Homo sapiens: one gene and its partner. The protein of the gene in region 1 purifies or fractionates together with the protein of each later gene. This does not show direct contact. Each region holds a gene or a part of one and is shown on either strand. Other genes may lie near its edges.

Region 1 (7,338 bases):
GGGGTTAATGAGAAGTCAACATGGTGGATTAGCATCCAAGATGAAGTTAATTTTGTCTCCACATACCAGTAGGAAAAAAAAAAAGCTAGCTTGCAGAATGCCAGGGTAGGCATTGAAGAACCAAACATAGAAAAGTGTGTTCAATGCTAGGAGATAGCTTAATAACTCATAGTTGGCAAAGTCTGTTATTTCTACCTCCTAAACTCTAGAGTTTATCCTATTCTCTCTATCCACACTGCTGCTCTTCTGCCCCAGGTAACTATTATCATGCAGCTGACCTAATGCAATAACCTCCTAACTAGTTGCTGTTTCTTTTTTCCTGCCTCAGATCCACTCTCTGTACAACAGCCAGAGTGAGCTTTATTATATAAATAAAATTCTGATTACAACACTCCTCTACTCAAATCTCTCCAATGGGAGCCAATTTTACAGTAAGTAGCTAGTCAGACATGAGCAGAGTAGGAGAGGGCTCCCCCCACCCACCAGGAATGTCAGGTGAACATCAGGTGATAGTAAGGAGGTTGTTAACCGTCTCTCTAAAATAATAGTTGAGGGCCAGGCGTGGTGGCTCATGCTTGCAATTCCAGCACTTTAGGAGGTCGAGGTGGGCAGATCACCTCAGGTCAGGAGTTTGAGACCAGCCTGGCCAACATGGTGAAACCCCGTCTCTACTAAAAATACAAAAATACAGGTGGCAGGTGTCTGTAATCCCAGCGACTCTGGAAGCTGAGGCAGGAGAATCGCTTGAACCTGGGAGGTGGAGGTTGTAATGAGCTGTGATTGTACCACTGCACTCCAGCCTGGGCAACAGAGCAAGACTCCATCTCAAAAAAAAAAAAATTATATATATATATATATATATATATATATATATAAAATAACAATTGGTCACAGCCAGTGCCAGGGAAAGGCAGTCTCCCAATAGACAGAAAAAACTTGAAACTGGTGATCAGCAGCTTCCTGATAAGATCTCAGGAGTTGGGCGAGTGGGTTCAAGCATGCACATTAAGAGGCAGAATGGCAGAGTTTAACTGGTATATTACCTTCTAGGGACATTCAGCTGGTAAGAGAAGAGTGCTTCAAGTAAGCATGCATACAACTCCAGTAAACACACTGTGCATGCTCCCCTCCCAAATCCTGGTGGGCCACTGCACATGTGGACAGCCCACCAAAGGGCAGAATCAGGGGAGAAGGAATGCAGGACCCTGGAAGTATGCCAACGTATAAAAACCCCGAGTCAAAAGTCAAACTGCACACTTGTCTTTCAAGTTGCCCACTTGGTCCTCTTCCAAATGTACTTTACTTTGTTTATTCCTGCTCTAAAGCTTTTTAATAAACTGTCGCTCCTGCTCTAAAACTTGCCTTGGTCTCTTCTTCCATCCTATGGCCCCCAGTTGAATTCTTTCTTCTGAGAAGGCAAGAATTGAGTTTGCTGCAAACCCACACAGATTCACTGCTGGCTGGTGACATATTTTGGTGCCGTGTGACTCAGATAACTTCCACTGCTAATGTCAATGTTGGACAATGTTAGATAATGTTGAAGGATTAAGATATCAGCGTAAAACTGAGTTTCTGTGGACTATACTTCTTTGTTATGCTCTACTGAACCCCTCTTGGGGGGAAGTCTTTGGGATACACCTTACAAGAGACTCATCTCTCACAGACAGTTGGCTGCTGGTCAGTGGAGGTTGGCTGCATTTACAGCCAGGATCAAAGGATGCCACTAATTTTAAGTCCCTAGTGTTTAATTCAGATTAAACACTAGGTTTATTTCTTGACAGAAGACATTTGTCTTCTTGACAGTGTTATTTCTTGACAGAAGACATTTACCTGTGAAAGCTGTTTTCTGGAACTTCTTTTCTTTACCTGTCTTTGTAATTATAGGCTCAAAATTGCCAGAGGAAGAACCCTAAACACTTAAAAATATATCTGTTTATCCAACTTCATTCTGACAATATGCCTCCGTATTCCAATTTGACACTATAGTTTACGAAGTCCTCTTCCTTCACCTTTAATTCTCCTTTTGGCTTAGACTAGAGTTTCTCTACATTAGCACTCTTCTGAGCTGGGTAATTCTTTGCTCTGAGAGGCTGTCCTGTGCACTGTAGGATGATTAGCAGCTTCCCTGGCCTCTGCTCCCCACATTAGAGTACCATGCTCCCACTCCTAGTTGTGACCACCAAAAATGTCTCCAGACATTGCCAAATGTCTTTAGTTTCCAATAAAACGACGTTCTCCATTAAGCAACATAATTTTTTAGTGTATGTATGTCCCATATGACATTTCAGAAATTTATCTGAAATTCAAATTTAACTGAACATCTTATCTTTTTCGTTGCTAAATCTGCAGTCTATCTGGGGGCGAGATAACCCCTGGTTGAGACCCAATGGCCTAGAGTTAAATCCAAGTGTTTTACAAATAACAATGAGTCAACTGCTTTTTTCATTGGTTTGTTTTTTGAGCTAACCCTACATCATTTGCAATTATAATGAGTACTGTTCCTTTAGAACCAGATGTTGTCAAGAGATGCAGAATCTAATAAAATGAGTTTTGATCCTGATTGAAAGTTAAAGAAACATTTAGAGCTCAGTCAGGGAGGAAAGAGCTTGAAGAAGAAAGCTAGCAGCAACCTTAGGAGAGAAGCAATGACAGTGAAGAGTTCTGTCCACACAAATTAGTTGAAAGAGGTTACAAAAGAGGCTACCAGAGGTTACAAAATATTGCATAACAGAGTGAAGTACCCAATGGATATACCATTAATGTTTTTCTAAGTCAATGGGAAGACACTTAAATGTCTTAAGAGTCTACAGAAATACAAAATCAAACCAAGCCAAAGAGGAAGTCAGCTGCAATTTTAGTGGGTATTGCAGACTTCCCTCTCCTCCAACGGAAGAATTAGCTAATTCTTAAACTCCAGAGAGGCTGGCCTCGATGTCAACTGCATAGTGAAACATAAAATCTTTGAAATAATTATAAAAATAGCTCAGTATATCCACCAGTGGAGTAAGAAGAATTTCCCTGAATATTTATAAGCACAGGCCTAGTATCCTGGTCACTAGTTTCTGGCCACTAAGGAGCCTCAACTGATTGGGAAAATCACATCAATTGGTTTGAGATGGTTGAACTATTTCTTCCATGATATTATTGAGCAAATAGGCTTGCTGCCCCCTGCTCACAGAAGCCAATATCTGGACACTGGGTTTTGAGGAAAGAAAAACTTTATTGCAAGACAGGTCAGCAAGGAGACAGGAGGTGGGCTCAAATCTGCCTCCCCAGTTTGGAATCTGAGAAAATGTATGGCTTAGAGGGTGAGGGAAAGGATTTAGGAATGTTGGTTTGGCAGGGACTGATTGAAGGGCTTCAAATTTGACCACTAAAGGTAAGGTATGTTGAGGCAGATTTCAGCCCTGGATCTTTTGGGCCAATGAGCCCCTAGCTTCTGAAAGAGGTCCTGCATTTAGGTTCCCGTCATGTCCTTGTCTTCTTGGTTCCCAGGGGAGGGATCATTTGTTCTAGGTTCTGTTAGAGGCAAAAACATTTTTATTGTGCATGCCTGGGCTAAATGACTTACAGTTTTTGGCTCTGTTATATCTACAGAGTAAATTGACATTTGTTATCAACAAAGTACGGCCCATTTGGGCTGGTCCCATGGTTATAATGGGTGTGTGGACGGTCGAGTGTTTCAATTCTGGGAAAGTTTGATGTGATTGTATTCAGTTCAAGGAAAATGTGTGAATGATATCATATATAGCATATAAAATGTTTACAATATTTAAGAGATTGGGCATACTAGCATGTTTGATAAATAAATTGATGATGCAATTTAAAATGCATAACAGAGTATTTGATTTTAGACTTATGATTTTTAAATTGAATATTATAAAGTAATTTGGCTAAATGTGTGAATAGTATTGGAATATTTAAAACAACTTAAGATTTATTATGTTAGTAAATTTATTAGTTTACAAAACTGCATAAATAGCTGGAAAAGCGTTACTTGTTAGGCTGAGAATTTTGAAGATTATTTTTCAAGTTCTTTGCCAGACACGTGTGGCTCTCACAAGTAAGTTTGTTGGTCTCTAGCCTTTCTCAATGGCCACTGAAAACCAGATTTTGATTACGAAATGTCTGAAATACAGTATCTTGGTTTGAACCGTGAGTCCTTCCTGCCAATGTAAGAACTTTTCTTCCTCCCTTAACTTTGCTTCCTTCTTTCCTGCATGTTACCACTGGCAGAGCAAATATGACTCAGAAACCGGCTCCTCAGGGTTGTAACATTAGATGATACAGGCTTGGGTCGTTACACATGACACCAGTGCCTTTGTTTCATTGGGCTGGGCTCTCTGGAAGGTGTGCTGCTGCCTGAGCTGCTGGAAAAGCACTGACAGGTGTTTGCTAGAAAAGCACTCCTGGAGCTTGCCACCAGCTTGGACTTCTAGGGACTTTCCTCTCAGCCAGGAAGGATTTTGATATTCATCAGAAATACCTCCAGAAGATTCAAGGAGCTGTAGAGGTGAAGTAAGCCTGTGAAGGACCAGCATGGGAATCCTATACTCTGAGGTACATCACCTTTCTGAAAGCAGAGTTCCAAAGATGTTAAAAGTTACTCATGCTTTTCAGATGCAATTTTCTATCCCTGTTAATATATTTCTGTTTTGTCTGTTCAACTCCCTGGGGGAGCATTAAGTCAGAAAAAATAAAGTCCTATGTGTTATTCTTGTTGATATTCTTAATAGTTTAAGACAAAGTATTTTGTAATTCTAAAATATTAGCTAGATCTAAGTTGAGATGAATATAATACACATTTCATAGTATCTGGATGTTTGCAAGGATAATTTGGACAAAATCGAGTTTGAGTTGTGCTTTTCTCATGACAAACACTCAGAGAAAAAGAGAAAATTGTACTCAATTGGATTTTCTAAATATCCAAAAGATTGACTGCCTCTTTTATGGAACCACATGACCAGAGTAATGCCTTTCAGCTTGGTATTTGAAGGGAGATTCACCTTTAGTAAATATTAGTAAAGACTATCACTATGAAGAAGAGGAATAATAACATATTTTGATGATTTGATTATTTTCTTTTCACATCTGATAAATACTGAGGTACTTTTACTTGTATTGGAAGTAACTTATTAGAATCAAATGGATTTTTAATGATGTTTCAAGAAAGTACAAGCAAGGAATGTTTAGACAAGAGTACAAGAGGTGTAATGATGTCATTATACATAATTTACTCTCTCTCTCCTCTGACACAATTAACTGGTTAATCTGCATTTCATTGCAGATGCTCAGGGGAACCTTCTTGGATAGTTTTGATCTAGTATTAAAGACAGTTTATTTGCAGTTATTTCTAATGCCATGTGTGTATATATCTCTCCGTGTGTGCAAATGCAGTGTTTGATTGGTTTATAACTCTAGGTATGTCTTGCTCAGTGATTTTAGCCTCATGAAGGGATCATATACATGAAAATGACAAAACATATAGTGCTTTTAAATGCTACTCTGGTAACTCTCAAACTTTAGACTGCCCAAGTGTCAGGGAGAGAAGTTTGTTTGAAATGCAGTTTCAAGGGACTCCAACCCAGAGAGTCTGTTTCACTCAGTCTATGGTAGGATACAAAAGTATACTTTTTAAAAGGAGCATCCCAGGTGGTTCTGACATAGGGGTGATCTGTTTACCACCATCCTGAGAAAGAAAGACTGCCACAGGCCAGTGCTTTCCCGTTTTTAATGTCTATACAGATCTTCTGAAGGTCTTGTTTAAATGCAGATTCTTAGTTTGTAGACCTGGGTGGGACCTAAGATTCTGCATTTTGGTTGCTTTTTCAGATTGCATGTGGGAATTATATGTGATTTGGAAAAAGGAAAAAAAAAAGCCTAGTCTCATCCTCAGGTATTCTGATGTAGAAAGTTGGAAGTAGGACCTTTCATCTATAGTTTTAAAGAGTTTGAGACTCTTTAAAATTAAATAGTAATCTCTTAAATATTTAAACATAGCCTACTCATTTGTAATATATCATTTGCTCTGTGTTTCCTAAGGATAAAGATTGTGAGCTACTCATTAAGGACAAGAAAAAAGCCTGCTGGATCCCTGGTCCTATGTTGCCTGGAAGAATCTATTCAAAAAAAAAAAAAAAACTTCCCCCAATTTGAGTGCGGGAAGCTCCTCTAGATTGGGGACATAGGGTTATCATTTTTCCTTAGAGCTTTGCAGTGCTAATAGTTATGCAATATATATTTTTAAGAAAGAAGGAGAGAATGAGGGAGGATCCCAGAGAGCTGGTCCTGAAATCTGCACTAGAGGATAAGCTTAGAGCTCAGTGAGAGGCCCTAATTTTGAATAAGTAACTCCAACTGCGTAAGATGGACTTTTAAACAAGGCTGATTCATTTAAACCCTTATCAAAGGTATTTGTTCATAATATTTACAATAGCAACAAACATGTATTTAGGGCTTCTTATAGATTAGGCCCTATTTTAAGCACTTTATATATGTATTAACTCATTTAATACAGCAATCTTGTAAGAGTCACTTTTAGTATCCTTATTTTACAAATGAAGAAACTGAGGAAAAGGTAGTCACTGGCTCATAGTTACACAGTTGAAAAGTGCTTATTGGCTGGAGATTGGTGGCTAGGATGAGTCCTGTGTTTACTCATTCAAAGAGATTCTTCTTACATCACTGCTGAACTACTAAATTTTTCTACTACTTGTTATTTCAACAGATATGTCATGCTCCATAAGAGAATTGGTCTTAACCACTCTGGTGTTCTGCCACTGTTCTAACCAGGATGGTGCCCTGTTCCCTTAGTGGAAAGAATGAGTAAACTAAATCCAGGTCCAATGAGGTACATTCTACTGCTACCTTGCAACAGAGAACTGTTGCATTGTGAAGTAGCACAAAAATCGGAAAGAAGAAAAATGCTGAGAACTTAAAAGAGTTCAGGAACTAATACTTAGGAGACTTAAAGAATCTTTTACAGACTTTTGGTCTCTTCAGTTGCAGACACAGGCCCCAAAAAGCGTTTCTTGAAAATCATATCTTAAATGATGTATTCCTTTAAACATTGGGAAGTTCTCATTATAAGGCTGTAAGTAAAAGGATGCACACACACCCACACACACACACACACACACATGCACATGCACACACACAAACTTAAAATTAATCCTTTGGCAATGGATATGTTTTTCAGAGAAGCTGATGTTACTACAGAAAAAGGAAATATAGTTCAAAAAACAGAAAGATTGTCTTGAAATATACAATGCCTAGGGAGAGCAATTTAGATCAAGCAAGTTTTATTGGAAAAGCTGGTACAGTTGAGGAGGAGAAGTC
Region 2 (3,249 bases), on another chromosome or scaffold:
ACCGTACGTTAGCCTGAAAGGTAGTCATTAACTCATGGTTCATTATGTGGTTGTCAACTTTAGGAAGACCTCACCTATCTGAGCTGGTCTGGTGACAGTAATATAGTTCTTTCTCTGATGGCAAGTGCCACCTTAGGATGGCAGTAGTGGTGGAACATGGGCACAGTGCAGCATTCACGAGTGCTCTGTAACACACAGCTGTCTCCTTCATCAAGACAGTGACCTTCCTTCTCTTTCAAAAGTTGTGTCCTATTCCTGACCCCAGAAGGCAGATAAATACGTTATTTTCTAGCCCAGGCTATCTTGTCTTTAAGTAAACCCACTTCTTCAACAGGAAATCATTGCCAAGAACTCCAGTGCTGAATTTAAAAACGTCCAAACCCTTTTCCAACCTCTTCTACTTCTGTACTTCTAACCCCCTCCAATCTTAGGGAATCATAATCATTGGTTTTAAAGAAGATTGTTTTTAACATTCAGTTATAGTTGTGTACCCCTAATAAGAAAAGTCGCCTCATCATTTTCACTTGCCTCATCTTTTATTAAGAATAAAATACTTTTAAGATGTAAACAAAGGGAACCATGACCAAGGATTAAGTCAACGTATCTATTTTTATTATGAAACATTAAATTTTGACACATTGCCTCATTTGCTTTTTTAAAATCTATTATCTGACTTAAACCTATTCAGCAAAAATGCCAATAAATTATATTAATCATACTTTGGGTCTTTTTAAAACTAGGAACATAATATGTTTTATGATAAACAATACTACTAAATCTGAGTTGTATGAACTGTTAACTTGAAATTTGTTTTAGATGTTTAGCTTAAAACAAAAAGAAAACCAATCACATTAATACACTGTTGCAAAAGTTTCTCCGGAATGCCCTCCACATCACTGTGTGTCAGCATCCTTCGGCTTCTTCACTGAGGTATGGAATGCAGCCATATGTAGGTGTCAAGGCACTCATTCTAAGCTGTCCTATCCTGCACATCTTAGCAATCACATTAGATGGAGGGCTGATGATATGCACTAACTCCCAACCCAGGCTATCTTGCTTTTAAATAAACTAATTTCTTTAAAAGAAAATCATCAACTAAGGACTCAAATGCTGAATTTAGAAATAATAATTCCAATTCAATACACATTCAATCAAATGTGTTAGTACTTAAAAGTCACAAATTTTGCAAAGTAAACAACGAATGAACTAAGGCAAATAGCATTGTCACCACATGCCTTAAAATGGTATATTTTTGGTGTTTGAAGCTCTTTGCAAATTACATTTTGGGACAGTTCAGATGGATTTAAATAAAAGATGTGTGTTCTACATAAATTCAGTTTTAAGGTTTTCAACATGGGTGGCAACATTACAAAAATATATCAATAGTCTTAATAGTGAATGTTTTCCACCTGGTTTCTAAATCTTTATTTTCCATGGAGGTAAACCAAAGTTTAGAGTCCATCTTCAGAGTTATGATATAATCTCTATTGTTCCTAGAGATTTGAAAACTAGATATGATCTAGATCCTTGCCAGGATCTTCACTTTCATCATCCTCATCCTCTTGGTCTCCAGATTCAAGTTCATCCTCTTCTTCAACCTAGAGGAAAAAGACGTATTTAATATTGTGAAAATCTGTTCATGTCACATTCAACATTTAACAATATATACTACTGATAATTTTTTTTTTTTCTGAGATGGAGTTTTGCTCGTTACCCAGGCTGGAGTGCAATGGTGCGATCTCGGCTCACTGCAACCTCTGCCTGCCAGGTTCAAGCGATTATCCTGTCTCAGCCTCCCGAGTAGCTGGGATTACAGGTGCCTGCCACCAAGCGCCCTGCTAATTTTTGTATTTTTAGTAGAGATGGGGTTTCACCATGTTGGCCAGGCTGGTCTCGAACCCCTGACCTCAGGTAATCTGCCCACCTCAGCCCCCCAAAGTGCTAGGATTACAGGTGTGAGCACTGTGCCCAGACAAATTTTGTATTCTAGTAACTACAGTAGAATATAAGCCATCTGATTTCTTTGATTTGATGCCAAGGCTCTCTGTCATTTCTAATATGAATGAGATATATCAGTTAACTTTGCTGATAAATGGCTACACCTCTTTACACACAAATCTGAAACAAACATGGCAAAAGATAATGACATGCTTGGGTGACTACAGTCTTGTTACCAATCAAATCAATTCACTTTCTAGGCTTACGGTCCAAAAGAAAATAGTCTGTAAGTACTGAAAACTGAACCTAATCTGTGTATTAAGTAAATTCAATGAAAACAGTGAAAACAGTATAGATGGTACCATATTCATGAACCCACATATCCATTCCTATAATACAGGCACAACTTTTCCATGTTACATTAAAAATCTTTTAAATGCATTATACTAAAACATAATACAAATCATTTTTGGAGACATTTTAATCTTACTGGATGACCAAGATCCTTGAGTTTATTCTTCAATGACAGTATTTTCTGATCTTGATCGGCCAAGAGCACCAAGAGATCATCTTGTTCTTTTTTAGAATCTGTAATTTCCAACTCTAGTTTGTCTTTCTCAGTTTGTAAAATGGCAATGGTACTATTAGATGAATCCAGCTGCTCTTTAATGGCAGTTCTTTCCTCAGACAGAGCTTTAATTTCATTCTAGGAAAAGAAAGGTGAAAGGCAGGAATCTAAAATTAGCACTCACTTTCCTAGAGTTTTTAACAAATAGTTTCTTTCTATGACAAATCACTGTACTTGTTCAACCTAAGGAATTTAGGGGTGGAGGTTAAGGGTACAGGAGGTTTAACACACACACTAACATGAATTTATTAGACTGTTCATCAAAAATGGTTATTGCCAAAAAATAGTTTAACATCCAAAAAATAGTTTTAGTTAGCTATCCCTGAAAAAACCTTTAAGAGACTTAAAAAAAACAGTACCATTTCAGATAATCAAAGGAGTAAACAGAAACACAAAGCATTTTACAGAAGAAGTCTGATTAGTACCAGAATTTTAGAACTCAAAGCTCAAGTTAAAAAAAAATTTTTTATCCCAACTTCAAGCATACAATTAAATGAAAATAGCTTCAAATAAAAATCTATGGTTTAAAAATAAAATAATTTGGCCACAATCCAAAAAGCACAATTATACATTATTTTCCTTATTTTCCTTAATGTGACCTCATTCCTTTCTTCATGCTATTTATTCTGATGTCTCTGTCACACAATAATATGCTGACAGGATTTAATGTGCCTATGTTCCAC

What was found.
Region 2: the proteins of ANKRD22 (region 1) and USO1 purify together in Homo sapiens (co-immunoprecipitation; 2 studies listed by BioGRID and IntAct, with this or other methods). This does not show direct contact.

The regions. Positions count from the first base shown.
Region 1 is NC_000010.11:88,848,809-88,856,146, reverse strand, and holds the start of ANKRD22 (ankyrin repeat domain-containing protein 22), read left to right. Parts: upstream 1-4,302; 5' UTR 4,303-4,539; coding exon 4,540-4,560; intron 4,561-7,338.
Region 2 is NC_000004.12:75,811,555-75,814,803, reverse strand, and holds the end of USO1 (general vesicular transport factor p115), read right to left. Parts: intron 2,645-3,249; coding exon 2,429-2,644; intron 1,599-2,428; coding exon 1,509-1,598; 3' UTR 518-1,508; downstream 1-517. UniProt on the Homo sapiens protein: General vesicular transport factor required for intercisternal transport in the Golgi stack; it is required for transcytotic fusion and/or subsequent binding of the vesicles to the target membrane.